Linked DNA regions of Homo sapiens: regions 2 and 3 are each linked to region 1. Evidence: fine-mapped expression QTL. A gene starts in region 1. Each other region holds a variant in brackets. All regions are shown on one strand. Distances are from middle to middle.

The links. PIP is the estimated chance that this variant, and not a neighbour inherited with it, causes the effect. A credible set is the group of variants that fine-mapping cannot tell apart.
Region 2: its variant is the best candidate, but not a certain one, in a credible set for the expression of MKKS in tibial artery (GTEx, PIP 0.82).
Region 3: its variant is the best candidate, but not a certain one, in a credible set for the expression of MKKS in visceral fat (GTEx, PIP 0.88).

Annotation. Positions count from the first base shown.
Region 1 is chr20:10,431,570-10,436,896 of GRCh38, reverse strand. MKKS (MKKS centrosomal shuttling protein) reads left to right here and starts at 2,675. Exons shown (of 6, transcript NM_170784.3): 1 at 2,675-2,789. It overlaps SLX4IP (SLX4 interacting protein), which reads right to left and starts at 1,592. Exons shown (of 8, transcript NM_001009608.3): 1 at 1,444-1,592. LOC128706665 reads left to right here and starts at 2,675. Exons shown (of 3, transcript NM_001394148.2): 1 at 2,675-2,789. It overlaps LOC128706666, which reads left to right and starts at 2,675. Exons shown (of 3, transcript NM_001394149.2): 1 at 2,675-2,789. RefSeq lists enhancers at 1,439-1,488, 1,649-1,878, 2,769-2,828, 4,779-5,280.
Region 2 is chr20:10,299,157-10,304,483 of GRCh38, reverse strand. It overlaps SNAP25 (synaptosome associated protein 25), which reads right to left. Exons shown (of 8, transcript NM_130811.4): 7 at 5,072-5,216. Among named protein-coding and RNA genes, the nearest start is that of SNAP25-AS1, 82 kb to the right of the region's middle. RefSeq lists an enhancer at 3,071-3,988. The variant G/A (reference allele first, on the strand shown) is at 3,105.
Region 3 is chr20:10,387,931-10,393,257 of GRCh38, reverse strand. It overlaps the pseudogene SDAD1P2. Among named protein-coding and RNA genes, the nearest start is that of MKKS, 44 kb to the left of the region's middle. The variant G/A (reference allele first, on the strand shown) is at 3,101.

The DNA of each region.
Region 1 (5,327 bases):
AAGACTTACAGAGAAAACCCTACATTTCAGATGTTATAACAGAAATTACATATAAGTATATTGGGATGACAAAATCTCTTTTCAACTTTTTGGAAAGCTAAATTGACGCCCTAACATCAAGTCAATGAACTAAAAGCACAGAAAAAAACCTGTCAAATATCCATTGCATTTAGAACATGCAATAAATTGATAATACACTGTGAATCTAGTTAAGAAGCACGGGTTGAACAAAGAATGGGCCAGGCCGGGCGTGATGTCTCAGGCCTGTGATCCCAGGACTTTGGAGGCCAAGGCGGGTGGATCACCTGAGGTCAGGAGTTCGAGAACAACCCGGCCAACATGGCGAACCCTGTCTCTACTAAAAATACAAAAATTAGCCGGGGGTGGTGGCGCGCGCCTGTAATCCCAGCTACTGGGAACGCTGAGGCAGGAGAATTGCTTGAACCCGGGGGGCGGAGATGGCAGTGAGCCAAGATCGCGCCACTGCACTCCAACCTGGGCAACAGAGCGAGACTCCATCTAAAAAAAAAAAGAAAGAAAGAAAGGGCTGTATCTTTAGCCCATGCCCTGAATCAATGTTCCTTGAACTTTAAGGTACACTTCTTGAGGAAGATTCTGATTCAGCAGCTCTGGGGTGAGAGTCATGAAGTGTAATTCTAACAAGCTCCCAGGGATGCTGATGCTGGTGGTAGGTGAAATGAACTTGGAGCAACAAGGCCCTAAGTAACTGGAATATTAGTTTTAACGCTAGCCAACTGGCTTACAAATATCGTTATGTCTAGGATCCAAGAAGTAAGTGTCAATACCATTAATTCCTACACCCGGCCAAAAAAATTAAAAACTAAAAATAAAAAAAAATAGTTCAGGGGAAGGAGAAAGCAAATACTTGTTTATACAGTCTAGCAGTGCTAAGAACCATAAAATACTGTTATTTGTCTCAACCTAGTAGATGTCAAGGTGATAAAATGTAGGCTCCATGAGTTAATGGATTTTTTTTAGCTAACTCCTGAATCCTTATGGCCTAGCACAAATTAGGTACTCAAGAAATGCAATGAATAAATGAATGAATGGGAAGTATATACAAACGCAATCTGTATTTACCTCACATCTCCAAAAATGTCTGGGAAGGGGGAGGTATTTGTACTGCTGGATGCAGGTAGCCATGATTTGATACAAATACCTGGCCCATCTACTGCATTCCCTTTGTGCAAAGACAGTTAACTTTCCTGAATAATATCTCCACCGTAATGCCCATGCTCATGGCATCCTGATGTTTAGCAACTTTTTGGCTTTTTGAAAACAATGAAGAAAGGTGGAAGTACAGGGAGAAGGATTCGGAAAAGTCTCAAAAAATCAAAGCCAAAAACCAGGAGGGAGGAGATGGGCAAACAGTTCAGTTCACTTGAAGGAACATCTGAGGTTGTCAGAGGTCCATGTGCTTACCTATGATGGTGGCGGGGTTTGGGCTCGGGCTTTATATGTTTTGTTACTGTCCAGGGTCACTGGCGGAGTAGTACCTGGCTGTGGAAACTCGGACTACACAGGTAGCCGGAACTGCAGCCAACCTTCAGAAGCTTAAGGGAAGCACTTTCGCGCTTACTTCCTCCTTCCCAGGGTCTCCGCGCGCGTTTGGGAACTCAGCCGCCGCCCAAACACAAAATGATCTGGGCAGCTTCGCTGCAGGATTGAGGCCACAGCCAGGATTTAAGATGGCAGCGAAACACTTCGATGGCCCGTGGAATCTGCCCAAAAGAAAAATGGCCTCTGTTCAGAATATCGCGGCTTTCAAAGTGGGCCCAAAACAAAAATGGCGCCGGACGCAGGCTATTTTTAAAGGCTGGGACCCCAATGACTCTCATTAGCAAATAACGTATCATGGTAACTCACGGTGCTAGGCAGTTGAACTGACCGAGAGAAAAAAAAACGCTTTTCTGTGGTGTGTTTTCTTAACATTGGAAAATGACTAGCTCAAGAATGGAACATATATTCGGTGCGAAAGATTGTGAGAAAGGAAAGGTAGCTTTCACAGTGCCGGATAAATTTTAATAAAAATAGCCATGTTTGAACATAACTTCCTATATGTTTTTTAATGTTAAAAGAGAATAAAAGTTTTGTCCTGGAACCCAGAAGCAGGATGGGGAAATGCCGGGTGAATTATCTAATCTGTGAAGAGTACGAGCTGCGAAACTCCGCACTTCCCTGTAAGCCCTCAGGAAGGACTGAGGGCGGATGCTTTAGTAGAAGGCAACTAGCTCTCACGGCGCATGTCCGTTTTCCAAACCCGATCCCGGGAGTTACGGGAGAGTAAAAATCCTGATTTTCCAGACAACCGCACAGAGAGGCGGGATACTGGCGCTGAGCGACAAATCCAAGCGCTTTGTAATTGGTCATGTCAGGACAGAGAGCAGAGCGCAGTGGACTATTTCTTTCTTTCATTCAATAAATCATTGTCAAGCGCTCACCAAAAGGCAGAAGCTGTGCCATTTTGATATGTTATTTAAATTTTATGCGTTCTTTTAAAATTTCAGTTTCAACAATTTGCTGGAATATACGCTGAATAAACTTCGCTCCCCGTTTTTTCCGGTGACGGCCGCTGTTGGCTGGAGCTTCACGGAAAACCCGGAGAAGCGGAGTGGGGGCGGCCCGGCGTCGACCGCAGAGCTGCGCGTGCTCCGTGCCCTCGCGCGACGCGAAGGTTGTCGGGATCCGCGGCAGCAGCGGCTGCTTGAGATCTGTTTCTGGGGCCTCTGGCGGTGGCGGCCTGGGGCGGCGCGACGGCTGGTGCGCAGGTGAGAGCGCTGGGACTCTAGGTGGAAAAGCCCGCTTTGTGTCCGGCCGAAGAGAGGGGAAGGGGCTTGTAGGCGCCTCCCTCTCCACCCCCAAAGGTCACCGGTGTCCTCACTGAAGGATATTTGAGGGCGGGGACAAGGAGGAGGCTGGCTCTCTGTAGGAGGCGAAAGACCGACCTCTGAAATAGCTGCCGATGGTAAATGTTGCGGTCGGCACGGATGCGGGCGGCGAGGAGGTCTTCCCGCCGGTGGGGAGAGCTGGAGGAGTGGCGCCTCACCACGCTCCCACCTGCGCTGCCGCCTTCTACGCCGAACCTGTGACTCCCCGTCCCCTCCCTCGCTGGGAGGGGCCCCGTGTGCCCCTGACTGTCTGGAGGGTGCACGGTGTACCCCAGGCTGTCGGGAGGTGGGGGCCGCCCTCCGACGGCGTTAGAGACGTTGTGCAGCGTGGCCCTGCCAGCTACGTGAAAGCAGCCGCGGGGCTTGCAGGGCTGTGGACCTTGTAGGGATGACCCTCTAAGGTCATGCTCGTCTTCCTCCCCGATAAGACCATACCCAAATCCTGTTGCCGTTTCAGAGACTCAATATGACGGTTTCATTCATTCATTAACATCTTCAGTTTATCCATAAACAGATATACACGTGTCTACAGCACTGCCGAGTTAGTAGATACGGCAGTGACCAAGAGGGACTTGCACGGTCCTGACTCCATGTTCTAGTGATGGGGGAGAAACAATACGCTCCCTATCCATGAGTTCCGCATGTGTGAATTCAACCAACTGCGGATAGAAAATATTTTGGGGCGGCGGGGTTTGGTGGCTCACCCCTGTAACCCCGCACTTTAGGAGCCCGAGGCGGGCGGATCACTTGAGTCAGGAGTTTGGGGCCAGCCAGGCCAACGTGGCGAAACCCGGTCTCTGCTAAAAGTACAAAAAAATGAGCCGGGCGCAGTGGCGCACGCCTGTAATCCCAGCTACTTGGGAGGTTGAGGCAGGAGAATCGCTTGAGCCCTGGAGGCGGAGGTTGCGGTGAGCGGAGATCACGCCACTGCACTCCAGGTTGGGCGACAGAGACTCTATTTAAGAAAATAAATAAATAAAAACATTCTGGGGGAAAAAAGATGGTTACATCTGTACTGAACACGTGCAGACCTTTTTTCTTGTCATTCCCTAAACACTGCAGTGTAACAACTACTTACATAGCATTTAACGTTGTATTAGGTATTATAAGTAGCCTAGAGATTATTTAAGGTACATGGAAGGAGGTGGCAAGTTGTGTACAAAACTACACGATTTTTTTTTTTTTTTTTTTTTTTTTTGACAAAGAGTCTCGCTCTGTCGCGCAGGCTGAAGCTGGATCTCTGCTCACTGTGCAACCTCCGCCTCCCGGGTTCAAGCAATTCTCCCTGCCTTAGCCTCCGGAGAAGTTTGGGATTACAGGCACCCGCCACTGCACCTGGCTAATTTTTGTATTTTTTAGTAGAGATGGTGTTTCGCCATGTTGGCCAGGCTGGTCTTGAACTCCTGACCTCAGGTGATCCACCCGCCTCGGCATCCCAAAGTGCTGGGATTACAGGCATGACCCACGGCGTCTGGCCTACTACACAATTTTTAAATCAGGGACCTGAGCATCTGGATTTGGGTATCCATCATGGGTCCTGGATGCAATCCCCCAAATACTGAGGGGTGATTGCACATTGATATTGAGCAAGATGTTTCTAGATTGTCCTAGGTTGGGTTTCCTGAGAATCAGACTCTGAGGAGATTTAGAGGCAGGACATTTACTAGAGAAGACTTTTTGGATGATTACCAAGGAAGAAAGGAAGCAGGATTGGGCAATAGAAAAAGTTAAGCTGCAGTGAAGTCTCAAGGATGTTCTCCACCAGTCCCACAGGAACTCTAGTGCTGGGTTGGCCCTTCAAAGTTGAAGAGAAGGGCCAGGCTTTTATACCCCTTGATTGATCTGTCGTTAGATGTCTGTTTCCCTGGAAAGGGCCTAACTTCAACTCTCTTCAGCCAAGTCAATCATGGACGGAGGCTGGCAGCCGAGGTCTGTCTCAGCTCTTCCAGGAGCTGGGGAAATAAGCCTTTCATTCCTTAGGGGGGTCAGGGTGGCACATCACAGCATTCATCACAAAGGTAGGGCTTTGAAGGAATCACGTGCTAGAGAATAATGGGGAGGGAGAGGGAAAACACTTTAGGTTGAGTGCTGAGAGAAAGGCTCTCTGAGTAGGTGACATCTGAACTAAGAGCTGAAGCAGAAGAATAAGCCATCCTCTGTGGACCAAAGGGGACAAGATTCTCTACTTTTCTGCTACGCACTAGGAATATAGCAGAGAAGACAAGTGGCTGCTACCTTCTGTTATCGTGGGTGGCAGTGACTAGTTTTTCTAGATCTTGACTCCCTGCCGTAACTAAAGATGGAGTAAGTAAAAATGGATTGAGACTAATTCAGAGGAGGATAGAGGAAAAAATGAGAACTATGATTTTGAAAAATGAGTCAACTTGGTAAAGACTTTATGCAGTTTTTTGTGCGGGT
Region 2 (5,327 bases), 130 kb after region 1:
ACAGTAAATAATACATAAAACATAGATGTTAATGGACTTTTTATGTCATTAAGGCTTCCAGTCAACAGTAGGCTACTAGTAGTTAAATTTTGGGGGAGTCAAAAAATTTTCAGCTGCATGGGGGTTGACACCCTAAATCTCCATGTTGTTCAAGGGTCAACTGTACTTTGTTCCACTCATTAAACTTTGACAACATCAAGATTAACAATATCAACTATAAAGTGTGTACTATTATTAGCTCACTTTTCCAAATGAGAAAAGCAGTCAGAAACGATCTGGGGAATTTGTCTGAAGTCTTAGTACTAATAAATGGAGAAACCAGAGTCTGAATGCTAGCAACCTGGAGTCAGAGTCCACACTATTCATCACTTACTATTCAATTTGCTGAGATCAAATGAGTTTATACACATAATGTGCTTGGAATAATGTTTTGCAAAACGAAGGGCTCATTAGTTTATCTTGCAATTATTGTTACCGTATGAGAACTTGGCTTGCTTCTGGGATGCTTAATAGTTTTTAAGTTGCATTTCTGAAGATTCATTTCTATGAGTTTAATAACTGTCTTTTCTTTAACAGATGCACATTTACTATGATTTTGTAACTGGCTGGCTTTAATCTCTTGGTTGATCTCTTTACTGCTTGGGTTATGTTTGCTGTATATGCAGCATGAAACCTAGGGCTGCTACCAGCATAAATCTTTAAATTCCAGAAAATGAATGATTCCCATCACCACTGAGAAAAATGCATCAGCAACCAGAGGTGAAGACAACGATTCTATGGAGGCTTTTCTTTTGTCCTTCCCTGACTGGTAATGCTGTCTATCCTTCTACAGCCTGGGAAGAAGAGGAGGAGGCTGCCAGGCAGTGTGGGGAAACCAAACTGTTTTTCTCTCAACCAGTATCACTCAATGATTACCAGCTTTGTACCTATTGTGGTGCTGTACTTCCCAATTTTTATTGAGCTGAGTCTTCTGTATTCAGTTCATATCGTGAATTCTCAGGACATTAGAATTATCCATGTTCAAATAGAAATTTGCAAAGTTAAAACAAACATATTTCCAGATTAATCATAACTTTGAATACCTGGCAATGGTTCTCTGTCATCTGTTTGGATAATTGACACTTGTCTTTTAAAATCAGTATTTACATAGTAAGATAGGGCATTGATTTTGATTGTTTTGAACTACAGACTCACATTTTTGACCTCAGGTTTCTCAATTGGAAAATGGATAATCTCACCAATTTTACTTGGTTCTTAAGCCCTCCCTTTCCAGCTACAAATGGTATCAGAAATAATGACACTTCAGTGCAAAGGAAAGTTACAGGATCAGAGCAATGTGAAATGTTCCTGTAGATTGAATTATTATGTTGCCAGACTAAATGCTCTGAAAAGCTCAAATGAGAAAAATAATTCATTTTAAAATGATGGCATTCCTGAGCGCAAACATTCTAGGATCTCCTGTACAAGAATGCACTGAGGGGCCTTCACCTGGGGATATTTGAAGTAGAGCATGAGGTTACTCTGTATATCCTTAAAGGATCTGGGAGGAGCTGAAACAGACTTATGTTCAATGAGCATCTGTGATTTCCACCTAACTTACTTCTGAAGCATATGAAAATTCCACCCCATGCAATATTTGACACAGAAAGTACTGCCCCTTTATTATATAAAAGAATTAGCTTCTTTTAAAAAAAAAAAAAAGTCTGGAATCTCCTTGTAGATGTCTTCCTGGTATTTGGAGAATGCCCCTATGATCACCCTACTTATATGCTGTAGGACTTTATTTATGATGGCTGTCCCATTCCAATTTTTATATTTCTATTTAGAAAATTCTAAATTTGCTGGAGTGCCCAACATATGTTACATGTTTGTCCTTGTGAGAAGGCCAGGATGACCACCAAAGAGCCAGTAAAAGTTTAGAAGGAGCTGTTCAGCCCATCTTCTGAACGCTCCGGGAATCTCTTCAACTTCAGACCATGCCAGGTGACTTTTAGAACCCAGTTCATACTTCCAGCCTGTTCTGATCCTAGGTTTGAACAGTTCTCTTACTATCCTTCAGGTGAGGCAATCAGGTCACAGAGCTGGTGAATGGCAAAACCCTGTTAGAACTCAAAGTCTTAGCTCTCAAATGCTGTGTTTTCTCACTGATAGAAGAATGTGAGGACTGCTAAAGAATCAGCCTCACTGTATTCCAACGTGTGCCTGTCATCTACCACTGACAACTTTATTTTTATTTATATATTTACTTATTAGAGATGGGATCTTGCTCTGTTGCCCAGGCTGGAGTGCGAGTGCAGTGGCACGATCATAGCTCACTGCAGCCTGGAACTCCTGGGCTCAAGGAATTCTCCTGCCTCAGCCTCTGGAGTAGCTGGGACTGCATGCCTAACTTACCACTGATAACTTTAAATCAAAGTTTGAACATTGCTAAGGTATTTCCTTAGCAACAGTTCCCATAAACCCTCTGATATAGGCTTGCTTCCAATTCAGTAAGTTTTCTGAAAAAATTATGTTTTTAACCTTAGAAGGTATATCTATATATGGTTATTTTTATATATGGTTTTTATATATATATAATAACCATATACATATAATATATATATTATATATTATATAATATATATAGTTATTTATTTATATATATAAGGTTATTATTTATATACATAAATACCCTTAAGCAGAAAACGAGATTTTTAAATAAAGTAATTTCTTGACAATCCATGAGGATGTATTGAAAATCTCATTGTTAAGGACTCCCAAAACTTCACTATTGATCCAAGTGATGAGAAAAGATCATGATTGATAGAGCTGGGTAAAGGTTGCTGTTGGGGTCATGAGAGATTATGAGAGAAACATCATAAGACTCTCCTTACCCCTACAGTGTGATTGCAATTACATCTTAGATATGCAGGAAACTTCCACATACTGTCCCGTTATCAGAAATGAGAACTTCAATGAGAAGGTGGAAATCTATTAATAATTGTGCAGTTCATGCGACATGATCATTTGGGGCAATGCTGGGTTGAAGTGGGCTCTATTTAAATCATGTGTGGATTTTGATTCTGGAAAAAAAAGGGGCTATTTAAAGTGCTGACTGGAAACTA[G/A]TTATTCAAAGGCAATTAGACCCTTCTCCCACTTAAATGATTCTGCACTCAAGGAATGATACAAATTGAAATAGTCATTATCCATCCACCTGCCTGGCTTCTGATTAAACCTTGTAGCTGCATATGTCTCTGTCTTTATAGTACACTGGGCGTAGAAGAAAAACCTTCTCCCTAAAGATGAGAACTAGAAATTCAAAGTGGCAGAATCAAGATGCCACTTGCCTTTCCAGGAACACATTTTCTTGCTTAAAGTTCAACTCTGTCAATAAGAGTTTGACCCTTCTATTAGTAAAGACGCTCCTTCTGGAACCCTAATTGGCTTTGATGCATTATCTAGCTGCATCTGCAAGTAAAGTGGGTCCATTAATAGAAAATGAATACTTCCTGTTTTTTTCAAATTGTTTTTTCTGTTGGAGGGCAGCTCAGCAATGATTTTTTAGTTCATTATTCTGGGCCGTAATGGGTTAGGTCAGCTTGTGTTGGCTCTAGTGAGTTTTGAAACTCTCATTATTATTCTAATATCTATTGATTTACACAGCTTTAAAAGCTTTATCATATGAAAGCCTTCTTAACAACGATAAGCATGCCATTACTTGCAAAAGTAAGCAAAGCACAAGTATTTTGCCAACCAACACTAAAGTTTGCGTAGTTTTCATACTGATCAGGCAAAATATGCAATCAGATATTTTTAACATGGAGTATGTACAACACAACAGGACAAAGTGTTCCCTTTATGCCTACTTACTCCTTTTTCAAGTCATTGGAGGTTGCTTGCATACCAAGAAACTACTATTTAGATTTATGATTCTAAAAATCTTAAAAGTATCCTTCTCTGCTCACCAAAATGGAATGAATTATTATAAGAAAATTTAGGATATCAGACAAAGAACTTCAACGTCTCCCAGGGAATAAACACACAACATAAGTTACCCACATTGAGTAGATTATAGATGTACAATTATCGTTAAATCTATAATGTCTCTTTTTCTCCTTTTTAGCATTTGGACATAAGAGTTTGTAATCAATATTCAAGACCCTACTGATTGAGGAAAGGGCATGAAACATGGAAATATAAATTATGTCGGAGTTCTGTGTTGTAGAATATCAGGTTTTGGTGCCCTAGGTCTCTTTATAGGAACGTTCCAGTGTTTCTTTCCAATCTCTTCTAATTTTAAGCCCCCAAACCCACCCCTTCCCAGTCTACTCCCTCCAGTCTTTCTTATGGCCCACGTTGACATGGTGGATCTTAGAGCCAAGTCTGGTGTCCTTGTGTAAACTCAATTTCATCATATAAAATTCCCTGTTTTTAGAACTGGGGATGTGAACTGTTAAACTGGAAATGGAACCTGGATATTTTTGAATTCTCATTAAAGCTTTGGCATTTATAAAAGCAAAGCTCATAATCATGTCCTGGCTATACTGACTATTCTTTCTCCCATTTTCTGATTCTATCCCTTCACCACCTCCACTTGACAAACTATTAATACTAACCATCCTTCAAGATTCAATTCAAAGTCAACTTATTCTGAGATTTTCCCGAACTTTGCCTCTTGAGATCTTTCCTTATCTAACCTTGTTTAGCATTTTATCTGTGGATCTCTTAGTGAATTATATTTTGAGTGATAGAAAATTCATCTGGAGGCTCGTAGCCTCCCATAGGCCGTGAATTTCTTGGCAGTAGGGGTGGTGTCTTTCTCATGTGTACATGGCCCACAGTGCCTAGCACAATGCCTGGCTGACAGGAGCCTTTGAGAATATTTGCTGGATTAAATTTGACCCTCTTATTTTCACTCCAATTCTGTTGCTGAGTCCTATATTTTTCTCTTGGAAAATGAAGAACATTTCCAGCTATCAGTGCGCCTGAATCCAAGGTCGTGTTTTGAGGATCTTGTTATGCCCTTCACACTTCCTGTTGGTCATTTCAGAAGTGACTCGCAGTAGGGACTTGCTGACTGCCACGTGCTCACCTTCTCCATGATCCTGTCGATCTGGCGATTCTGTGTATCGATCTCATTGCCCATATCCAGGGCCATGTGACGGAGGTTCCCGATGATGCCGCTCACCTGCTCTAGGTTTTCATCCATTTCATTTTCTCGGGCATCATTTGTTACCCTGGGATCCAAAGAGCAAGTTTTAGAAGACAGAGGGTGGAAAACATATTGAATACCAAGGACCCAAAGCATAGTGGAAATCTGTCGTCCTCTGGGCATCAACTTTATCTAT
Region 3 (5,327 bases), 44 kb after region 1:
CCTTTTTTACTCTTTATTGAGCATCGTAAGAAATAGCTTTGTCATTTTCTACTATAAATTAATTCCTGATAATCCTCAGAGATGAATCTGTCTTCTCATATTTGAATGCTTTCTGGTTTTATTTTCATTGTAATGAATGCTCTGATGTAAACACTAGGATTGTGCTTTGGAAATAGTTTTAAAATATGAAATTAAATATGGTACATTTGCAGGTTTTTTGGTCCTATGATTCTTACTTTCTTAGAACCAGATTATGTTTCTCCTCATTCACAGAGGTTGCAGTGAGCCAGGATTGCACCACTGTACTCTAGCCTGGCCTACAGAGTGTGACCCTGTCTCAAAAAAAAAAAAAAAAATTTCTCCTTATTCATTCGATGAAGACCTTTATTGGTTACCATGTCAAGTCATTGTGCATATATTTTTCCTGTTCAGTTTCAATTCTTCCATTCATTTGTTGAGCTCCTAGTGTCATAGCTAGGGATACCATAGTAAGTATGAAAAGACATAGTTCCTGGCCGGGCGCAGTGGCTCACGCCTGTAATCCCAGCACTTTGGGAGGCTGAGGTGGGCAGATCACAAGGTCAGGAGATCAAGACCATCCTGGCTAACATGGTGAAACCCCGTCTCTACTAAAAATACAAAAAAATTAGCTGGGCTTGGTGGCGGGCGCCTGTAGTCCCAGCTACTCAGGAGGCTGAGGCAGAAGAATGGCGTGAACCTGGGAGGCAGAGGTTGCAGTGAGCCGAGATCGTGCCACTGCACTCCAGCCTGGGCGACAGAGCGACACTCCATCTCAAAAAAAAAAAAAAAAAAAAAAAAGAAAAGACATAGTTCCTGTTCTGATTGAGCTTAATGTCTAAAATTCACCCACATAAAGGCTAAAATTCACCCACATAAAGGTACACTTACAACTAAACTATTAAGAGATAATCAATCTGTTATTTTGCTTTGTTTCTTTTTTTTCTCTTTTTTTTTTTTTTAAGACAGTCTTACTCTGCTACCCAGGCTAGAATGCAGTAGTGCAATCTTAGCTCCTGGGTTCAAGTGATTCTCATGCCTTGGCCTCTCGAGTGGCTGGGATTACAAGTGTGTGCCACCACACCTGGTTAATTTTTTTATTTTTAGTAGAGGCTGGGTCTTGCCATATTGCCCAGGCTGGTCTCGAACTCCCAGCCACAAGTGATCTGCCCACTTTGACCTATCAAAGAGCTGGGATTACAGGCATGTGCCACCATGCCTGGCCTGATAATCTGTTTTTTAAGAAGACGTAATAGGAATAAGAGAGATCTTTTAGATATCAAGCGTCGTTAGAATTAATTAGAATCAGAGAAAAATGAGATTATTCCAGACAGAAAGAACAGCATATACAAAGGCACTGTTGTAGGAAGAAACATATGTGAAGAATTGGAAGAAGGTCACTGTGGCCAAAGCTTAGAGTAGAGAGCGAGAGCAAATACTGTGGAAGATGTCTCTGAAGATACAGGTTGCAGCCAGGCCAGGCCAAACTTGTGATGATGAAGGGTTTGGAATTAATCTAAAATCAATGGAAATTCTTTAAAAAATTTTTTTTTGTAGAGATGGTGTCTCACTATGTTGTCCAGGCTGGTCTTGAACTCCTGAGCTCAAGTGATCCTCCTGCCTCAGCTTCCCGAGGAAGATTACAGGTGTGAGCCACCACACCTAGCCTGCAGTTCTGACATTGTTTTAAGTTGAGGCAGGAGGGCAGTAGGGGGGAAATAGTGAGTTTGAGGAGGAGAGATTGGTTAGGAAGTTATTCATTAGAATAGTGAAGGAATTATGGCACATGGTGGTGTCAGTATACATGAGAGACACAGATAGATTCAAGAAACATTTAGCAGATGCATCCAGGAGTAGTTGTGATGACTTCAATAATCACAAATGGACAATTGGCAAGGCACAGTAGCTCATGTCTATAATCCGAGCACTTTGGGAAGCTGAGACGGGCAGATGGCTTGAGTGCAGGAGTTCAAGACCAGCCTGGGCAACATGGCGAGACCCCGTCTCTACTAAAAATACAAAAAATAGCTGGGTGTGGTGGTGTGAGCCTGTGGTCCCAGCTACTTGGGAGGCTGGAGGACCACCTGACTGGAAGCTGGAAGTTGCAGTAACCCAAGATGGCACTACTGCACTGCAGCCTGGGACAGAGCAAGACCCTGTCCCAAAACAAAAACAACAAACAAACAAACAAAACGAATGGCCAATTAGATGATTAGAGTTAACTCTCTGTTTTTAACCTTAACTCAATTTGATGACTGGAAGAGCACAGGGTTTGCAAGAGGGATAGTAGTTTTGTTTTGAACACAATGAGTCTGAATTGGTTTCTTACTAATCAAGTGAAGAGATTACTAAGACAGATCTACTGATCTGGAGTTCAGAAGATAAATCTGGCCTAGAAATATAAATATGAGTCAGTTTCATCTAGGTTGCTTAGTTTGGATGTTTGACCCTCCAAATCTTGTGCTGAAATTTGACCCCCAATATTGGAGGTGGAGCTAGTGGGAGGTCTTGGGTCACATGCGGGTGCATCCCTCATGAATGGTTTGGTGCTGTCTTCTAAGTAATGAGTGAGTTCTTGCTCTATTAGTTCCTGCAAGAGCGAGTTGTTAAAAAGAGCCTGACACCCCCTGTTTGCCTCTACTCTCACCACGTGATTCCTGAACAGGCCAGCTTCCCTTTGCCTTCTGCCATGAGTAGAAGCAGCCTGAGTCTCTCACCAGGAGCAGATGCTGGCGCCATGCTCCTTGTACAGAACTGTGAACCAAATAAACCTTTTTTCTTTTCTTTCTTTATTTTTTTTTTTTTTGTTTTAGAAGGAGTCTCACTCTGTCACCAGGCTGGAGTGCAGTGACGCAATCTTGGCTCACTGCAACCTCCACCTCCCAGGTTCAAGCAATTATCCTGCCTCGGTCTCCCGAGTAGCTGGGACTACAGGCGTGGGCAACCACGGCCATCTAATTTTTGTATCTTTTTTAGTAGAGATGGGGTTTCACCATGTTGGCCAGGATGGTCTCGATCTCTGGACCTTGTGATCCGCCCACCTTGGCCTCCCAAAGTGCTGGGATTACAGGCGTGAGCCACC[G/A]CACCCAGCCTAAACCCTTTTTCTTTTTTCTTTTTTCTTTTTTTTTTTTTCTTGAGATGGAGTTTTGCTCTTGTTGCCCAGGCTGGAGTGCAATGGTGTGATCTCAGCTCACTGCAACTTTCGCCTCCCAGGTTCAAGCGATTCTCCTGCCTCAGCCTCCTGAGTAGCTGGGGTTACAGGCATGTGCCACCAAGCCCAGCTAGTTTTGCATTTACTATAGTAGAGACGGGGTTTCACCATGTTGGTCAGGCTGGTCTCGACCTCCTGACCTCAGATGATCTGCCCACCTTAGCCTCCAAAAGTGCTGGGATTACACGCATGAGCCACTGCGCCTGGTCTTCTTTTTTCTTTATAAATTATCCATCCTCAGGTGTTCCTTTATAGCAACACAAATGGACTAACATGATGGTATTGAAGCTGTTCATTCACTAATTCATTCAATCAGCATGTTTATCACACTCCCACTATGTGCTGGGCACTGTTCTTGGTTCCGGGGATTCAGATAAATTTTAGAGTCAGCTTGACAAGTTCCATGAAAATCCTTTAAGATTTTAATTGGAATTGCATTATTTGTAAATTGATACCTGTATAACATTTAGGCTTTTCATCCTGAAAAAGGGTGTCTGTCTTCTTTACTTGAATTTTATTTAGTTATTTAATATTTTTGTAGTTTTTTGTTTATTTCATTATATATTTTGAATGTTTCCTTTGTTGAGTTTATTCCCGGATATTTTATAAGTTTTTTATTATTGTAAATGGAATCTGGTTTTTAGAGATGGGGGTCTTGCCCCATCACCTTGGGTGCAGTGCAGTGATGCAATTGTGGTTCACTGTGGCCTTAAACTCTTGGGTTCAAGCAATCCTCCCACCTTGGCCTCACAAAGTGCAGGGATTACAGGCATGAGCTGCCACACCCACCCAGTCTCTTCCTCTCTTTTTGGACCTCATTGCATTGGCTAGGACTACCAGTACAATCTGAATAGCAAGAGGGCTAGTTAGAGCTTCTTTTATTTTCTTTTGTGATTTTCCAAGTGATGCAGGATTTTTGCTCCTTAACTCAGCTAAGTCCGGGTTACTGTCTCATGGTCAGGAAGAATTAGGCATGTGGACACCAGAGAGTGAGTGGAGTAGAATTTATTAAGGAAAAGGAAAGCTCACAGCAAAGAGAAGGGTCCTGAAAGCAAGTTGCCAGTTGCCCCCTTCACAGTTGAATACAAGGGTGTAAGGCACGAATTTCTGGTGGCTCCACCCCATCCTTCCAGTGTGCCTGTGGGCCCTTGGTCTGAGCCACTCCATATTAATTTATATCCCTTGCTGTGCATATGTTACGGAATGGAATTTTCCACGTGGACATGTTTAGGCAATCCCCCTTTGCAAGTTCCCTTATCTGCACAAAGCATCTCATGCTGTGGAGCCAGTGGCAGATTCTCCGGGGACCCTTCCCTTACTGTCTGCCTAAAGCAAACTGGCTAAATTCTTTCACAAGTTTTTCTTTTTCTTTTTTTTCTTTTTCTTTCTTTTTTTTTTTCCAATTTGCATTAGAAAGCTTTTATTGAGACAAGGTAAACAGTGGGCTGAAAATATTACAGGCTGAAGGAAGGCTGAGGAAACCAGTATGAAGGCTGCTCAAATGATGAACTAAATACATTCCAAAGGTACTATTTATACTTAAGGCAGTTTTAAAAGTGAGGTCTTAACCAAAAATCCTTTACATGGCATTCAAAAAAAGAAAAAAGAGGGGGTCACTTAAATCTTTTGTATTGACTAAAAGAGTTAAATTATGTACCCAAAATCTGTACAACAAGGGCCTGTTTTCAGCAGGTAAGCCTATGTACAAGTAAGAACCTCTTACTCTTATAACATTGTCCTGTTTTCTTTTGTTTTATAAGAATATATAACTCCTATCCCCACAGAGTTAGTCCAAAAGGCCTGAGTGACCTCATAGAAATATGGAGCTACCTCTACTAGAGAACTATTTACACTGCGCTGTAAATACACATATGTGTGTCCACCCCCACAGCTAAGCTGTCAATGCCTTGAGTGAAGGGGTTACAGCTCATTGGTTTTATATCTACAGTGACAATTAACAGGCACTCAATACTTTTTTTTGCATGAATGATAAATGAATTGATTTTACACTACCACCACTATTTACATTAACATTCCCACCATTAGCCGTCTCCAAAATAAAAACACCAAATTGCTGCCACATTTTCAGCAGTTTTCA